2 separate regions of the Homo sapiens genome follow, and region 2 is linked to region 1. Evidence: fine-mapped expression QTL. Tissue or cell type: whole blood. Region 1 holds a variant in brackets; the other region holds the start of a gene. All regions are shown on one strand. Distances are from middle to middle.

What was found. PIP is the estimated chance that this variant, and not a neighbour inherited with it, causes the effect.
Region 2: INSR starts here. The variant in region 1 is fine-mapped to the expression of INSR in whole blood (TOPMed, PIP above 0.99). The same link has a PIP of 0.9 or more in cerebellar hemisphere, cerebellum, cerebral cortex, lung, nasal epithelium and subcutaneous fat.

The regions. Positions count from the first base shown.
Region 1 is chr19:7,122,345-7,130,448 of GRCh38, forward strand. It overlaps INSR (insulin receptor), which reads right to left. Exons shown (of 22, transcript NM_000208.4): 15 at 6,508-6,610; 16 at 4,240-4,307; 17 at 2,939-3,183; 18 at 535-645; 19 at 270-429. Among named protein-coding and RNA genes, the nearest start is that of ZNF557, 57 kb to the left of the region's middle. The variant G/A (reference allele first, on the strand shown) is at 3,164.
Region 2 is chr19:7,290,261-7,298,364 of GRCh38, forward strand. INSR (insulin receptor) reads right to left here and starts at 4,154. Exons shown (of 22, transcript NM_000208.4): 1 at 3,532-4,154. The coding sequence starts at 3,631. RefSeq lists an enhancer at 2,596-3,354 and silencers at 3,336-3,395, 3,446-3,585, 3,726-4,005, 4,026-4,415, 4,556-4,735.

The DNA.
Region 1 (8,104 bases):
AGGCAGGTGAATCACTTGAACCTGGGAGGTGGAGGTTGCAGTGAGCTGAGATCACACCACTGCACTCCAGCCTGGGCAACAGACAGAGTAAGACTCCGTCTCAAAAACAAAAAGACAAAACAAAACAAAAAAAACCCCACAAAAAAAAAAGAAGTATCTTGCCCCTTTATATTATCAGAAAAGACTTAACGGCTCATTATAGACAACTTCCTTCTGAAATCAAACCTGGCCTGGGTCGTTATGTTTTCAAAGCAGAAAGCCAGACGAACCTCCAATTTTGACAGTAAAATCATGGGCGACCATGCAGTTTCTCGCTGCCAGGTCCCGATGCACAAACTTCTTGGCGTTCAGGTAGGCCATCCCGTCAGCAATCTCTGCCGCCATCTGAATCATCTCTTGAAGGGTAGGGGGAGGGCGGCCAGGATTATTCTAAAACAGAAACACGGGGTTGGTGTTTCAGCAGCACTGGGATCCGAGGAGGCCAGGAGCGGGTGCTCCACCGAGTACCCCGCTGGGTCCCCCGAAGCAGCTTACCTCAGCCTCTGGCCGCAGAGAACGGAGGTAGCTCTTCAGGTCTCCGTGAGCCATCAGCTCCATCACCACCAGCGTGGGCTGGCCCTTGGACACCACTCCCAGGAGGCGCACCTGCAGAGCAAGCAACCAGGGTTCTTGGAGGAGGGTCCGTGATTCGACTCACCAGGGTTCTCCTCCCTCCCTGGTGTCTATGTCACACACAGCACCCTGTGGCCTGGATGCAGCGTGCTCAGCCCTGGTCTAGGAGAGCAGACATACCTGCCCGGACAGCAGACAGATAGGCCTTTGTATTTTTTTTTTTTTAATTTTCGAGACGGAATCTTGCTGTTACCCAGGCTAGAGTGCAGTGGCGTGATCTCGGCTCACTGCAACCTTTGCCTCCCGGGTTCAAGCAATTCTCCTGCCTCAGTCTCCCGAGTAGCTGGGGTTACAGGTGCCCGCCTCCACACCCGGCTAATTTTTGTATTTTTAGTAGAGACAGGATTTCTCCATGTTGGTCAGGCTGGTCTTGAACTCCTGACCTCTGGTGATCCGCCTGCCTCAGCCTCCCAAAGTGCTGGGATTATAGCCACTGCACCCAGCCAGGCCTTTGTATTTTAATCATTCCCTCTGCCTGGCTCTCTGTTCCCTGCCACATCCACAGGGCCCAGCTCCTCATGTCCTCTAAGTCTTTGCTCAAATACACCCCTGTCCAACCCTCCTTTCCTCCCTTTCTTCATGTTTCCATAGCATTTGCTCCTAATGTATAAAGGGTTTGGAGTCAGCTGGGGGTGGTGGCTTATGCCTGTAATCCCAGCACTTTGGGAGGCTGAGGCCGGTGGATCACCTGAATTCAGGAGTTCGAGACCAGCCTGGCCAACATGGCGAAACCCCATCTCTACTAAAAATACAAAAATTAGCTGGGTGTGGTGGTGGGCTCCTGTTATCCCAGCTACTCAGGAGGCCGCGGCAGGAGAATTGCTTGAACCTGGGAGGCAGAGGTTGCAGTGAGCCGAGATTGTGCCACTGCACTCCACTCTGGGCGACAGAGAGAGACTCTGTCTTAAAAATATATAAAAATAGGCTGGGCGTGGTGGCTCACGCCTGTAATCCCAGCACTTTGGGAGGCCAAGGCAGGCGGATCATGAGGTCAGGAGATCGAGACCATCCTGGCTAACACAGTGAAACCCCGTCTCTACTGAAAATACAAAAAAATTAGCCAGGCACTGGGCGTGGTGGCTCACGCCTGTAATCCCAGCACTTTGGGAGGCCAAGGCGGGTGGATCACGAGGTCAGGAGTTCAAGACCAGCCTGGCCAGCATGGTGAAACCCCGTCTCTAATAAAAAAAAGTATAAAAAGCATTAGCTGGGCGTGGTGGCAGGCACCTGCAGTCCCAGCTACTCGGGAGGCTGAGGCAGGATAATTGCTTGAATCCAGCAGGCAGAGGTTGCAGTGAGCTGAGATCATGCCACTGCACTCCAGCCTGGGTGACAGAGTGAGACTCCATCTCAAAAAAAAAAAAAAAAAACAATCAGCCAGGCGTGGTAGCAGGCGCCTGTAGTCCCAGCTACTCGGGAGGCTGAGGCAGGAGAATAGTGTGAATCCAGGAGGTGGAGCTTGCAGTGAGCTGAGATTGTGCCACTGCACTCCAGCCTGCACAACAAAGCGAGACTCCGTTTCAGGAAAAAAAAAAAAAAAAAAAAAAAAAAAAAAAAAAAAAAAAAAAAAAAATATATATATATATATATATATATATATATATATATATATATATATATATGAAATAAAATAAAAATAAAGGTTTTGGAGTCTGTCTCCGCCTGCTGTTTTGGAAGCTCTACAGGGGCAGGTATCCACTGTATCACAGGGACAAGAGCAGGGCTTTAAATGCCCCATAAATATGTGTGGCAAGGATGAAAGCACATAGGACTCAAAGAGGAACAAAGGAGCAGAAAGGCAGGAAGAGTTGGTGCTGCCTTCAAAGGAGAGTAGGAACGAGGGCAGGTGGTATCAGGTGGACCTCTATGTGGTCCTGGGTTACAAAGGTGCCAGGAAAAAGCAAGAAATGGAAGAGTCTAAAAAGCAATGGAAGATTGTGGAAAATGATGGAAGATTCCGGAAAGTGGTGGAAGATTCCAGAAAATGATGGAAGATTCCAGAAAGTGATGAAAGATTCTGGAAAGCAATGAAACATTCCAGAAAGTGATGAGACAGTGATAGAGTCTGGTTCCAGGCGAAGTGGGAGAGGATGGGATTTGAGAAGGGAATGATCCCTCCTCACACCTCTAGGATGGGAAGCTTAGTGGAGTGAGGGGTGGGTAGGAGGTTACACCCTGTGTCCTCTGTCGCTCTGTGCAGGAGGAGGAGGCAGAGAAAGGGAAGGGTCAGGAAAGCCAGCCCATGTCCCACCCCCACTGGACTCACCACGTGATGGCAGGTGAAGCCCTTCATGACCGAGGCCTCATTGAGGAACTCAATCCGCTCTCGGAGACTGGCTGACTCGTTGACCGTCTTCACCGCCACGCGGGTCTCTGCCTCACCCTTGATGATGTCCCTGGCATTGCCCTCATACACCATGCCGAAGGAGCCCTGCCCCAGCTCTCGAAGGAGGGTGATCTTCTCTCGAGACACCTCCCACTCGTCCGGCAC[G/A]TACACAGAGCATGGAAACACTACTTCTTACTTATCTACACAGCATCCTTGGAGGATCCCTTGGGGGTCTGCAGCCACCTTCCACCCAAGCCCTCACCCAAACCCCCTCGAAAACACTCATGAAATGAGTTCTGTGATCCAGGACCCATGCCGGGCACTGGGCATATGGCCGAGAACAGGACAGGCATCTGCACCCATGGAGAGGGCATGGCAGAGACTCAAGGAAGGAGCCACAACTGGTCCAAGATCCTGGCCAATATGTCCTGAGGCAAACCTGCATCCCCATCCTTCTTGTCTGATTTCAGACCCTTGCTATGGAATGATGCTACTTCCCACCTGAGACTACTGTTTCTGCAAAGTGCCAAGGGGATGGAAGACAGGTTGTAATAGGTTGGGGAAAAAAAAAGCCAGGATACTTGGAGCTCTTCCCATGAAAAGGTGGAGTCTATCTCACCACCCCTTGGCCCTGGGCATGGCCTTGTGAGTTATTTTGGTCAATGGGAATCAACAAGAATTGTCCAAGCAGAGATTTGGAATGGACTGTTGCCCTGGAGCTTGCCCTGGAGCTTTCTACTAGGAACCAACAGAGGACCATGGAATGAAGCCTGAGCCAGCCTGCTGGAGCCTAAGAGGCTAGATGGACAGAGTGAGGCTCAGCCTCCCCCAGCTTAGGGCCCCCACCTTGGGACCACCCAGCCTACTGACCACCAGACATGTGAGTGAAATCATCTAAGACTACCGAGTGCTAGCTGACACACCAGCAAAATGTAGCTACATGGGTGAAGCCAGGCAAGACCAGAAGAACTGCCCAGCTGAGCCCAGCCCAAGTGGTCGACCCTGCCCAAGGGTCCCAGACCGGCTAGATGAGCCCATTCAGGCAGGTGCCAAATACCATGTGTCCAGATGCACACAGTAATGAGGTTTCTGCAGCAAGGGCAGTTTGGCAAGCTCAAATGAATAAGAGGGCTTTTCTTGGCCTCCCTGGGGAACCCATCCTTCACTCTCACTCAATGGTGAAGGCAAAGGAAGCTGATGAGTAGGGTTCTGGCCACCCACAGGGAAGGGATGGTACTCACCATCACTGGCACTGAGATACTCAGGGTTTGAAGAAGCGTAAAGCGGTCCCAGCGGCCCATCTGGCTGCCTGGAGGAGGAAAACGAGGCACGTTAGCTTGAGATTCTCATGGGACTCTGCAGAAAGGTGTTTCATACAAGACTCCCCAAGGCAAATGGCAGCCCTTACCAGCAGAATCCCCATAATCCTAGATGCAGTCTAGGGCAGGGATGGGGGACCTTTATGTTTTGAATGGAAGCCCATCAGACAGGTATGTAAGTGCATCAACATGGGAGCACTCATCCCTCCCTGGGTGGTTTTTTTTTTGTTTTGTTTTTGTTTTTGTTTTTACATTTCAGAGTTGCAGTCTTGCTCTGTTGTGGCTGGAGGGCAGTGGTATAATCATAGCTCACTGCAGTCTTAACCTTCTGGGCTCCAGAGATCCTCCCACTTCAGCTTTCTGAATAGCTGGGAATACAGGTGCTCACCACCACACCTGGCTAATTTGTAAAATTTCATATAGACAGGGTCTCACTATGTTGCCCAGGCTGGTCTTGAACTCTTGGTCTCAAGTGATCCTCCTGCCTCATCCTCCCGAGCGGCTGGGACTACAGATATGCACGACCATGCAGGGCTCTGGCTGGCTTTTTAAATAATTTATGGCCATCCATGTAACACTTAAAAGCCACTCACCCAGTACTGTTCTAGAGCGAGCTCATCCCGACTGATGAGAAACAATTATTAAATTTTCAGGAAACTAGTGAGCCAGTTGTTAAATACAAGCATCATTAAAGATTAAATTGTACAATGCCTTCCAAATAGAACAAAAAATATAAATTATAGAGGCTTACAATTAAATAAATTATCCTAAAAGCAAAGACAATACATGTTCAAAACTCATCACTTCCTAACTCTCATACTACATTTAAATATGATCAATGCAGTTGAGGTTATTTACATTATATCATTTATACACCATATTGTATCCATAGGGTGGATTCAATGGGGAGCTATTATGTATCTCTTTCTAACACTGCACTCAGTAATATTATGTCTACAGCTTGAATTTAGACATCCTGGGAATATTTACATTACAGAAACTGGCAAATGCTATAACTCAGGACTGGATTTGTTGTTCTGTTGTTTGTCCAGGCTTGAGAAAGTGATGAGAAAAATATTTTTTTGTTTTGTTTTGTTTTTGAGACAAAGTCTCACTCTGTTGCCCAGGCTGGAGTGCAATGGTGCGATCTCGGCTCACTGCAACCTCTGCCTCCTGGGTTCAAGCGATTCTCCTGCCTCAGCCTCCTGAGAAGCTGGGATTACAGGCGCACATCACCACACCTTGCTAATTTTTGTATTTTTAGTAGAGACGGGGTTTCACCATGTTGGTCAGGCTGGTCTCGAACTCCTGACCTCATGATCCGCCCGCCTCGGCCTCCCAAAGTGTTGGGATTACAGGTGTGAGCCACCGTGCCCAGCTGAGAAAAATGTTTAATCATGTAGATTAAACTTAAAAGCGTGTCATGTCTGCAACTGTGATGTTGCATGTGGCACAAAATGTTCTTCTGATATTTAAAAATTACCATCTGACTCAGCAAAGACGTCACTCATATCACTGATGAACATATATGTCTTATTTCAGTTTTGTCCTACTTTTTTTTTTTTTCCCGAGACGGAGTCTCCCTCTGTCGCCCAGGCTAGAATGCAATGGTGCGATTTCAGCTCACTGCAACCTCCGCCACCAGGGTTCAGTAATTCTCCTGCCTCAGCCTCCTGAGTAGCTGGGATTACAGGCGCCCACCACCATGCCCGGTTAATTTTTTAGTATTTTTAGTAGAGACGAGGTTTCACCATGTTGGCCAGGCTGGTCTCAAACTCCTGACCTCAGGTGATTCACCCGCCTTGGCCTCCCAAAGTGCTAGCATTACAGGTGTGAGCCACTGTGCCCAGTCAAGTCCTACTCCTTAATGTAAATTTTGAAAAATTAATCAACATTCACATTGGAGCTTTACTTGTTTATCAATTGCAATAATAGGTTAGCTTCGGATATAAAGGTTTGGGCAAAAAAAAAAATCAATAAAAACATTCTGTGAGAATCAACTGTCTAGAGGGAATTTACAATAAAGAGTTGTGTATATCATATTATGACAATTATCTGTAAATTGCATGTTACACATCCTATATCAGCAAAATTCATAATAAACTTAAATATGCCTATACCTATATCAAGGCATGTTTTCCCCCAGAGAACCAACTGTTCCCAGCACACCACTGAACTCACTGAACTCACCTCTTTCTCAGGAATAGATAAATACTTCCAATCACAACACTGAAGAGAAAGACAAAGATGAGGGGGCCGATGATAATTTTTGCAATATTTGACGGGACGTCTACTGAAATAGAATAAGAAAATATATGTTTCATATCAATGTGTTTCCAACAAAGTTCACATCAAAAATCACATCCACTCCTGGAATGGGTGGGCCACCCTGTTCCTTCCCTCCCTTGTCCATAAACCTCTCTGCTGCTCTTCCACATCCTGATTTTCCAGCAGTCCCGAAACAGTCCCGTAGGTGCAGTGGGACCAGGCAGTGGGCTCAGAGGTCAGTATTCTGGAAGCACACTCTTCCCCACCCCTGCCCCAAATCACTGCTCATTTCCATCCCTCCCACATCTCAGGCAGTGGATGCAGGACCCTTTTCTGTCAGTTTAATGCTCTGCTGTTGCCCCTCTGAAATGCTTATTCATTTTATTTTAATTTTTATTTATTTACTTATTTTTGTGACAGAGTCTTGCTCTGACACCCAGGCTAGAGTTCAGTGGCACGATCTCGGCTCACTGGAACCTCCTCCTTTCGGGTTCAAGTGATTCTCCTGCCTCAGCCTCCCAAGTAGCTGGGACTACAGGCATGCACCACCACACCCGGCTAATTTTTGTATTTTTAATAGAGACAGGGTTTCACCTTGCTGGCCAGGCTGGCCTCAAACTCCTGACCTCAGGTGATCCTCCCGCCTCAGCCTCCGAAAGTACTGGGATGACAGGCGTGAGCCAACGTGCCCGGCCAAATTCTTAATAATTTTAAAGCAAGGAGTTCTGCATTTTCATTGTTCACTGGGTCTTGCAAATTACATAGCTAGTCCCGATCCCAGCATGACTTTTGACAGATGTAAACTTCTTTTAATTTTTATTTTTTAGAGACAGGGTCTTACTCTGTCACCCAGGCTGGAGTACAGTGGCACAATCACAGTTCACCGCAACCTCAAATTCCTGGGCCCAAGTGATCCCCCTGTCTCAGCCTCCCAAGTACCTGGGATTACAAGCATGCACCACCATAGCTGGCTAATTTTTGTATTTTTTTGTGGAGACAGAGTCTCGCTATGTTGCTCAGGCTGGTCTCTAATGCCTGTCCTCAAGCAATCCTGTTGCCTCAGCCTCCCAAAGTTCTGGGATTACAGGTGTGAGCCACCTCATCTAGCCAAAAAACTCTAGTAACAAAGATGGAGACACTAGCAACAGGTGCCAGGCACTTAACATTTGTGTCATTAAAATGTCCCTCCACCTCCTGAAGTGGTTCTGTTATTATCTCCATGTACAGATGAGGAAGTGCAGGATTGCCAGATAAAGAAAATGTGATACATACACACCATGGAATACTACACAGCCATGAAAAAGAATGAGATCATGTTCTTTGCAGCAACATGAATGGAGCTGGAGGTGATTATCCTAACTGAATTAACACAGGGACAGAAAACCAACTACCTCATGTTCTCACCCATAAGTGAGAGTGAGACACTGACCACACATGGACAGAAAGAAGTGAACAGTAGACACCGGGACTGCTATGGTTTGGATCTGTGTCCCCACCCAAAGCTCTTGTTGAAATGTAA
Region 2 (8,104 bases), 170 kb after region 1:
CCAGGCAGGGTGGCGTGTGCCTGTGGTCCCAGCTACTACGGAGGCTAAAATAGGAGGATGGCTTGCGTCCAGGAGGTCGAGGCTGCAGTGAGCCATCATTGCCCAACTGCACTCCAGCCTAAGCAACAGAGCAAGACCTCATCTCAAAAAATAATAGATAGCTAGAGAGATAGATACAAAAATCACACTGATTTTCCTCCACCCTTCATCCCAATCAAAATGCCATATTGGGCCCGGAGTGATGGCTCACACCTATAATCCCAGGTCTTTGGAAGGCCGAGGCAGGCAGATCACTTGAGGTCAGAAGTTTGAGACCAGCCTAACCAATATGGCGAAATCCCATCTCTACTAAAAATACAAAAATTAGCCAAGGGTGGTGATACACGACTGTAATCCCAGCTACTCAGGAGGCTGAGGCAGGAGATGCACTTGAACCTGAAAGGCGGAGGTCGCAAAGATCGTGTCACTGCACTCCAGCCCGGGTGACAGAGTGACACCCTGTCTCAAAAAAAAAAAAGAAAAAAAAAAAGGCCAGGTACGGTGGCTCACTCCTGTAATCCCAACACTTTGGGAGGCCGAGGCGGGTGGATCACAAGATCAGGAGGTCGAGACCATCCTGGCTAACACAGCAAAGCCCTGTCTCTACTAAAAATACAAAAAATAAGCCGGTGTTGTGGAACACGCCTGTAATCCCAGCTACTGGGGAGGCTGAGGCAGGAGAATCCCTTGAACCTGGGAGGTGGAGGTTGCAGTGAGCTGAGATCGTGCCACTGCACTCCAGCCTGGGTGACAGAGCAAGACTCCGTCTCAAAAAAAAAAAAGCCATATTGGTTGACATTAGAGATTAATGATCTGAAAAGTTCTTTGCCCCTCCCCAAGCCTTCAAGAGGCATCACAGCCCATTTATTTGACAGGATTTTGTTCACCATCACCCCAATCGTGGGGGGTACGGAGGCTCGGACTCAAAAGAACAAAGATTTGTTAAGAAACCATTGCTCTGCAGCCACACTAGCTAGATTGCAATCCCAGCCCTGCTGCCTGCTGGCCTCAAGCGAAGTTTTCTCACTTGTGAAAAGGGAAGATTAAACCGCACCTCGTGGGGTTTTGCCGTGAGGATTAACTGAGATTATATATGCAAAGCGCATAGAACAGCACCTGCTGAGAGCTTGCTCTTCTAATTCTTAGGAAGGTATTATGCAGAGAATAAGGAACTCCTTAAGATGATAAAGGAGCCCAGTACACCCAGGAACTCCACCACTTGTGCCCCACTGCAGAACAAATATTTACTGAACACCTACTATGTGCCAGGCATCGTTCTGGGCTCTAGAAATGCAACGGTGAACAACAACAAACCATAAACCCCTGCCCATATGGAAGCCATAAATGTGCAAAGAAATGGTAAATCCATTTACTGACCCTGAAAGCCCAGGCACAGATCCACAATTAATTACCAAAGCTACAAGGAACAGAAGAACAGGGAACCACACACACGCACACATAGAATCTGGCATAGTTCGAAACCACTCATCTTGGATTTTCTTTTTATTTATTTATTTATTTTTGAGACAGAGTCTCGCTCTGTCGCCCAGTGGCACGATCTTGGCTCACTGCAAGCTCCGCCTCCCGGGTTTACGCCATTCTCCTGCCTCAGCCTCCGGAATAGCTGGGACTACAGGCGCCCGCCACCACGCCCGGCTAATTTTTTCTATTTTTCAGTAGAGACAGGGTTTTACCGTGTTAGCCAGGATGGTCGTGATCTCCTGAACTGGTGATCCACCCGCCTCGGCCTCCCAAAGTGCTGGGATTACAAGCGTGAGCCACCACGCCCCGCCTTTTTTTTTATTTTTTTGAGACAAAGTCTCGCTCTTTGGCCAGGCTGGAGTGCAGTGGTGCCATCTGAGCTCACAGCAACCTCCTCCTCCCGGGTTCAAGCAATTGTCCCGCCTCAGCCTCCCAAGTAGCTGGGACTACAGGCGAACGCCACCAAACCCAGGTAATTTTTGTATTTTGAGCAGAGAAGGGAGTTTCACCATGTTGGCCAGGATGGTCTCCATCTCCTGACCTCGTGATCCGCCCGCCTCAGCCTCCCAAAATGCTGAGATTACAGGCTTGAGCCACCGCAGCTGGCCAGATTTTCTTAACAAGAACTCCAACTAACCGCCACCCTTCATTGAGCACCTACTGTCTCCCAGGCACCTGGGGGCGGGGCTGGGGGGGGGTGGGCCCGGGGCTTTTAGACATTATGTGATTGACAGAGTCGACTCAGCAAACCCGGTTGGTCCACTCTAGCACCTGATTTTACATGCACCCGTTTCCCCATCAATACATTTAAGAGCTTCAATTCCTTCCCTCCCTGACCCCTTCCTCATCACGACTGATTTCCTTTTATGGAGAAATCTGAAACAGTAACCCAACAGATATTTTTAAAGCAGGGCCTCAGACCCCACAGTGGGAAACCCAGGCTATATTCCTTAAATGATTGCGCCATCTTCATCTTACAACCCCAAAGGTGCCTATTGTCAAGCCCAAGGAAGATGCTGCCCACACGTGGGAGAGGGGCCCATGGGGTCAGGGGGAACGAAAGGCTCACTCAAGGTCAAAGGCTCCTTCATGAAGCGCAGGGCTGAGGGGAGAGGAGGGGTCAAGGAGACAGCAGACAAGGGACAGTAGTCCAGATTCTTGGGCAGAACGGGACACACAGAGGCTCAAGTCCTGGCTCTGGCACTGACTTTAGGGCAAGGGAGTTATGCGTCCTACATGAGCCTCAGTTTACTCCTCTGTGAAATGGGTGCATAACTGTATCTGCCTCCGGGGGCCACTGTGACAGTCCAGAGAGATAAGATAGACTAGGCTGTGGCGTGCGGTGATACCAATTACAATAAATAGGGTAAAAAACCGCCACTACTTCTGCTACAATTGCTGCTGTTGCTAAGGCTTTAGAATTTGCCTCCGGACATCTGGAAACAGAACCCAAAAGGGTAAACATGGACCTAGAGTCCGGGGTGGCCACGGGCCTAGATCCAAGGTAGTTGGGTAGAGGGGGGCTCTGCAGTCCCTGACCCCAGGCAGCGTCACCCACCGGTGAGGCACTCAGGGCGCTTGGCTCTACCTACACCATATGCGCTCGGGGGACTTGGCTGTTCGGGGCTGTCCAGACCCAGTGACCCCACTTCCCGGCCGCGACCCAAAGATGACGCGTGTCGTGTCTCCGGAGCGACTTGGGCTCGGAGGGGCCGGGGCACGGGTCGGAGGCGCGCTCCAGAGAGGAGCCCGCGGCGGGGCGGGCACCGGGGCAAGGTTCCTCGGGCTCAGGTCGGGCACGCAGGGCGCGGAGGCGCGAGCCCGGGCGGGCAAAGGCCAAGGTCAGAGGCTTCCCGCTCCCCCTACGCGATGCAGGAGCTACCGTCCTGGCCACCGCCCCCCGCCCCTGGGGAGGGTTCTCAGTCCACAAGCGGGGGCTCGATTTTGGCTTGGGTGGGGTCCTCTCCCCATCGCGGCGCTCCCCGCCCACGCCCGCGCCCCCAGACTCACCCTCTCCGGGGTACAGGTGGCCCGCGGCGCCCAGTAGCAGCGCGGCCACCGCCACCAGCAGCGGCGCGGCCGCCGCCCCCCGCCGGCCCCCGGTGGCCATGGCTGCGGGAGCGCGGGGTCTCCTCGGATCAGAGCGCGCGGCGCTGGCCCGCGGGGGTCATGCTCCGAGGCGGCCACCCAAGAGGCGCTGGGGGCCGCGCGTCCTTCTCTTCCACGCCCGCGACCCGCGGGCCGCAGCCCCCCTGCCGGGGAGGGCCCAGAGGCAGCCCCGGGAAGGGCGCGCGCGGCTTCGCCAGCTACAAATACTGAGCGGAGGCCCTTGCGGTGGTGGCCCCGACCCCCCGGCCGCTGCGGCCCGGGCCCCGTCCCAGGATCTCGGGGCCCGGAGCTCCGCGCTGCGCCCGGGACTGTCTCTCGGCTCTCGGCCCCGCGCGCTCTGGGTCGCGATCTGCGGGCTCCGGGACAGAGGGACGCGCGGACCGACGGACTAGCTGACTGGCGGGCGGGCACCTGGGCTGGCGGGTGGCGGGCGGGCGGCGGGAGAGAGGGCTGCTCGGGCCCGTAAACAACGCGGCCCGTCAGCTGGGCCCCGTGCGGGCCGCGGGAAAAGGCGGCGCGGATCTGGCCTAGGAAGGGACTCTGCGCCCGGGAGAGGCCCAGGAGAGGGAGGGAAAGCTTGCAGGGGAGGGAGGTGCCGCCCGGCCCCGCCCCGCCCCGCCCGCCTCCCCGCCTCCCTGTGCCGGGCCCCGCGCGGGAGGCCCTGGGCGCGCCGGGACCGAGGGCGCGCCCCAGATCCGCGCGCCCTACAGCCCCGAGTCTCCTCCAGTTTCAGACCCCCGGAGGCGCCCCACAGGCCCGACGCAGCGGCACAGATCCTTTCTCTACCATTTTGCTATTTTGTTCATAGTGGGCTTTGGAGGATTCCTGTTGATTTTTTAAAAAATACTGCATTAAAATGTTTATTTTGGTGACTCGAGGTGGTTTTGGTTTCTTTCTTTTTTTTTTTTTTTCACTCCCTTAAATTTTGCACCCCAGGCGAGTAGTGTCTCACTCGCCTTTCCTCAGTCCGGGCCTGGCCAGCGACACTCGTCCCAGAGCGCGTGGGCGCCCCCAGATGTCCCGCCCGCGAGTGCGCCCCGGCCCAGGGGCGAGACCCAAGCCAGGCCCCTGGGGACAGCCACGTGCCCGCGTGCCCAGTGCGCTCCCTGTGTTCAAGTTGGAGAAATGACACCTGGAAAAATGTGCAGACGCTTCTGAAAGGGCAAAGACGACGCCAAAGAAGACGCCGGAGACCTCGAATAGGGCGCAGGTGGACATCTCTGATTTTCAGCAGACCAGCCTGTATGTGTCTGAAGTCTAGCAACGACATTCACCAACAAGGCGGGACAGCGGTTCCACCTACCTTACTGCAGGAGAGGAAGGGGCTTTCAGTATAGGAAAGCCAGAACTCAATGGGAGGAGGGTTCCTCCACCCCTCACTCCTGTGTGGTCTTGGACCAGGGACTTTTCTGTCTCTGGGCCAGTTTCACTTGTGTAATGGGTTTAATAATACCTGCATGCCAGTTCTGGGGAGGTACCCGGGAAAGAAAACTTAAGAAAGCGCCCAGCACAACCCTAGACCCAAGGCATTCATTCTTCTTTCATTCAATAAACAGTTTGCTAGGAGCTGGACCCACTGTTCATGCAACAGGCCAAACCTATTCCTGCCTCTGGGCCTTTGCCCCAGCATTTCCCTTGCCCGTAACACTCCAGGATGGCTTCATCTCTGAAGTGCCATCCCTAACCATATTTTTGCAAATCCTCCCCCCAGTTCCGTTTCCTTCTCTCTCTCTCTCTCTCTGTTTTTTTTTTTTTTTTTTTTTTTTTTTTTTTTTTTTTTTTTTTAGATGGAGTTTTTCTCTGTTGCCCAGGCTGGAGTGCAATGGCCAGATCTCAGTTCACTGCAACATCACCTGCCTGGGTTCAAGTGATTCTCCTGCCTCAACCTCCCAAGTAACTTGGATTACAGGCATGCGCCAGCACACCCAGCTAATTTTCTGTATTTTTAGTAGAGACAGGATTTCACCATGTTGGCCTGGCCGGTCTCAAACTCCTGACCTCAGGTGATCCACCGGCCTTGGCCTCCCAAAGTGCTGGGATTACAGGCCTGAGCCACTGCGCCTGGCCCCTTCTCTCTCATTTTCATAGCATGTTTACCCCACTACCTGCAATTGTTTGTTTTTTTTTTTTCTTTTCTTTCTTTTTTTTTCCTTTTGACAGAATCTTGCTGTCACCCAGGCAGGAATGCAGTGGTGCAATCCTAGCTTACTGCAGCCTTGAACTCCTGGCCTCAAGCAATCCTCCTGCCTTGGCCTCCCAAGGTGCTAGGATTACAGGCATGCGCCACCATGATTGGCCTTGAAATTCTTATTCGTTTTCTGTGTCTTCTCCCCTTCCCGTGAAGGCGGAAATCTTTTCGGTCTTGTTTCACTGCTTAAACCCAGTGCCTGACAAATCTGTTGCTTAATAAATATTTGTTGAGTGGGAGAATCAACAAGCAATAAGTAATAGGGGATTTTTCAGTGAGCAAAATAAACATGACCCATTTCCTTATGGAGTTCACAACTGAGCCAGGGAGAGAGCCCTTAAAATAATTGAGTGTGTAATGAGCTGAGGGAAATGGGAGGTGCATAGGGAGGGGTTTGCTGAGGACATGGGGTTTTTTGTTTGTTTGTTTTTTGATGGATCTTACTCTGTTGCCCAGGCTGGAGTGCAGTGGCACGATCTTGGCTCACTGCAACCTCCGCCTCCCAGGTTCAAGCAATTCTCCTGCCTCAGCCTCCAGAGTAGCTGGGATTACAGGTGCATGCCACCACGCCTGCCTAATTTTTGTATTTTTAGTAGAGGCAGGGTTTCACCATATTGGACAGGCTGGTCTTGAACTCCTGACCTCAAGAGATCTGCCTGTCTCGGTCTCCCTAATTGCTGGGATTACAGACGCGTGAGCCACTGCACCTGACTGAGGATGTGATTTTGAGCTTAAGTCTGAAAATGAAGAGGAGCCATCCTAGGGAAGCCATAGGGATGTGTTTCAGGTGGGGGAAGGCATGAGCAAAGGCCCAGAGGAGAGTGGGCAAGGCATTCTTGCAACTGAACCAGGCATTCACTGTAGCTGCAGAAAAGAAAGAGGAGAAAGTGAAGCCATGGGTGAGAACTGCAGTGGGCCCTTGAACATGAGTTTGAACCGTGCACATCTTTTTTTTTTTTTTTTTTGAGGCAGAGTCTCGCTCTGTCACCCTGGCTGGAGTGCAGTGGAGCAATCTCAGCTCACTGCAATCTCCACCTCCAGGGTTCAAGCTATTCTCCTGCCTCAGCTTCCCAAGTATCTGGGACTACAGGCACACGCCACCTCACCCGGTTAATTTTTGTATTTTTAGTACAGACGGGATTTTACCATGTTGGCCAGGCTGGTATCGAACTCCTGACCTCAGCTGATCTGATCAGCCTCCCAAAGTGAGGTCATCTTTAAACAGAATGTTTTTCAATAAATATATTGGAAACATTTTTAGAGATTTGCAATAGTTTGAAAAGACTTGCAGATGAACTTGGTAGCCAAGAAATATTAAAAAAAAATTAGGTATGTCATGAATGCATAAAATATATGTAGATACTAGTCTGTTTTATTATTTTTGTTATTATTTTCTTTTAGAGACAGGGTCTTGCTCTGTTGCCCAGGCTGGAGAGCAGTGGCCCAATCATGGCTCACTGTAACCTCCAACTCCTGGGTTCAAGCGATCTTCCTGGCAAGCACCAACACGCCCGGCTAATTTTTTTACTTTTTATAGAGACGAGGTCTCACCATGTTGCCCAGGCTGGTCTCTAACTCCTGAACTCAAGTGATCCTCCTGCCTCTACCTCCCACAGTGCCGAGATTACAGGTATAAGCCACCATGTCCAGCCCTATTTTATAATTTGCTAACATAAAATATACACAAATCTGTTACAAAAAGTTAAAATGTATTAAAACGTACACACACACTTACAAACCATACATGGTGTTATTCCAAGTCAAGAGAAATGTAAATAAATGTAAAGATGCAGCATTCAATCATAACTGCATAAAATTAACTATAGAATATATTGTGTTATTGTAACAATTTCATAGCCACCTCCTGTTGCTACTGGAGTGAGTGCAAGTGTTGCAAGTATCCGCTTTAAATGCCATGTTACATTAATTATCTCCCTGTGGGCAGTTCACCTCTCCAGGAATTTGTGCCCCGGTAAAAAGGGATCTCTTGGCGGTTCCCGCGTATTTTTCACTGTGTTTAGTGCAATACCGCAAACATTGAATAACATCCTGAGACCCATGTAAAGTGCCACTAGTGATGCTGGAAATGCTCCCGAGAAGCAGAGAAAAGTCAGGACAGGACAAGAAAAAGTTGAATTGCTTGCTACGTAACATAAATGGAGCTCTACAGCTGCGGTTGTCTGCTTCAGACAGACAATTCATCTTGTAAACAAATTTATGGCATTGATAAATATTGTAGCGTTCTGTAACTGTAAATGTATTTTCTCTTCCTTGTGATTTTCTTTT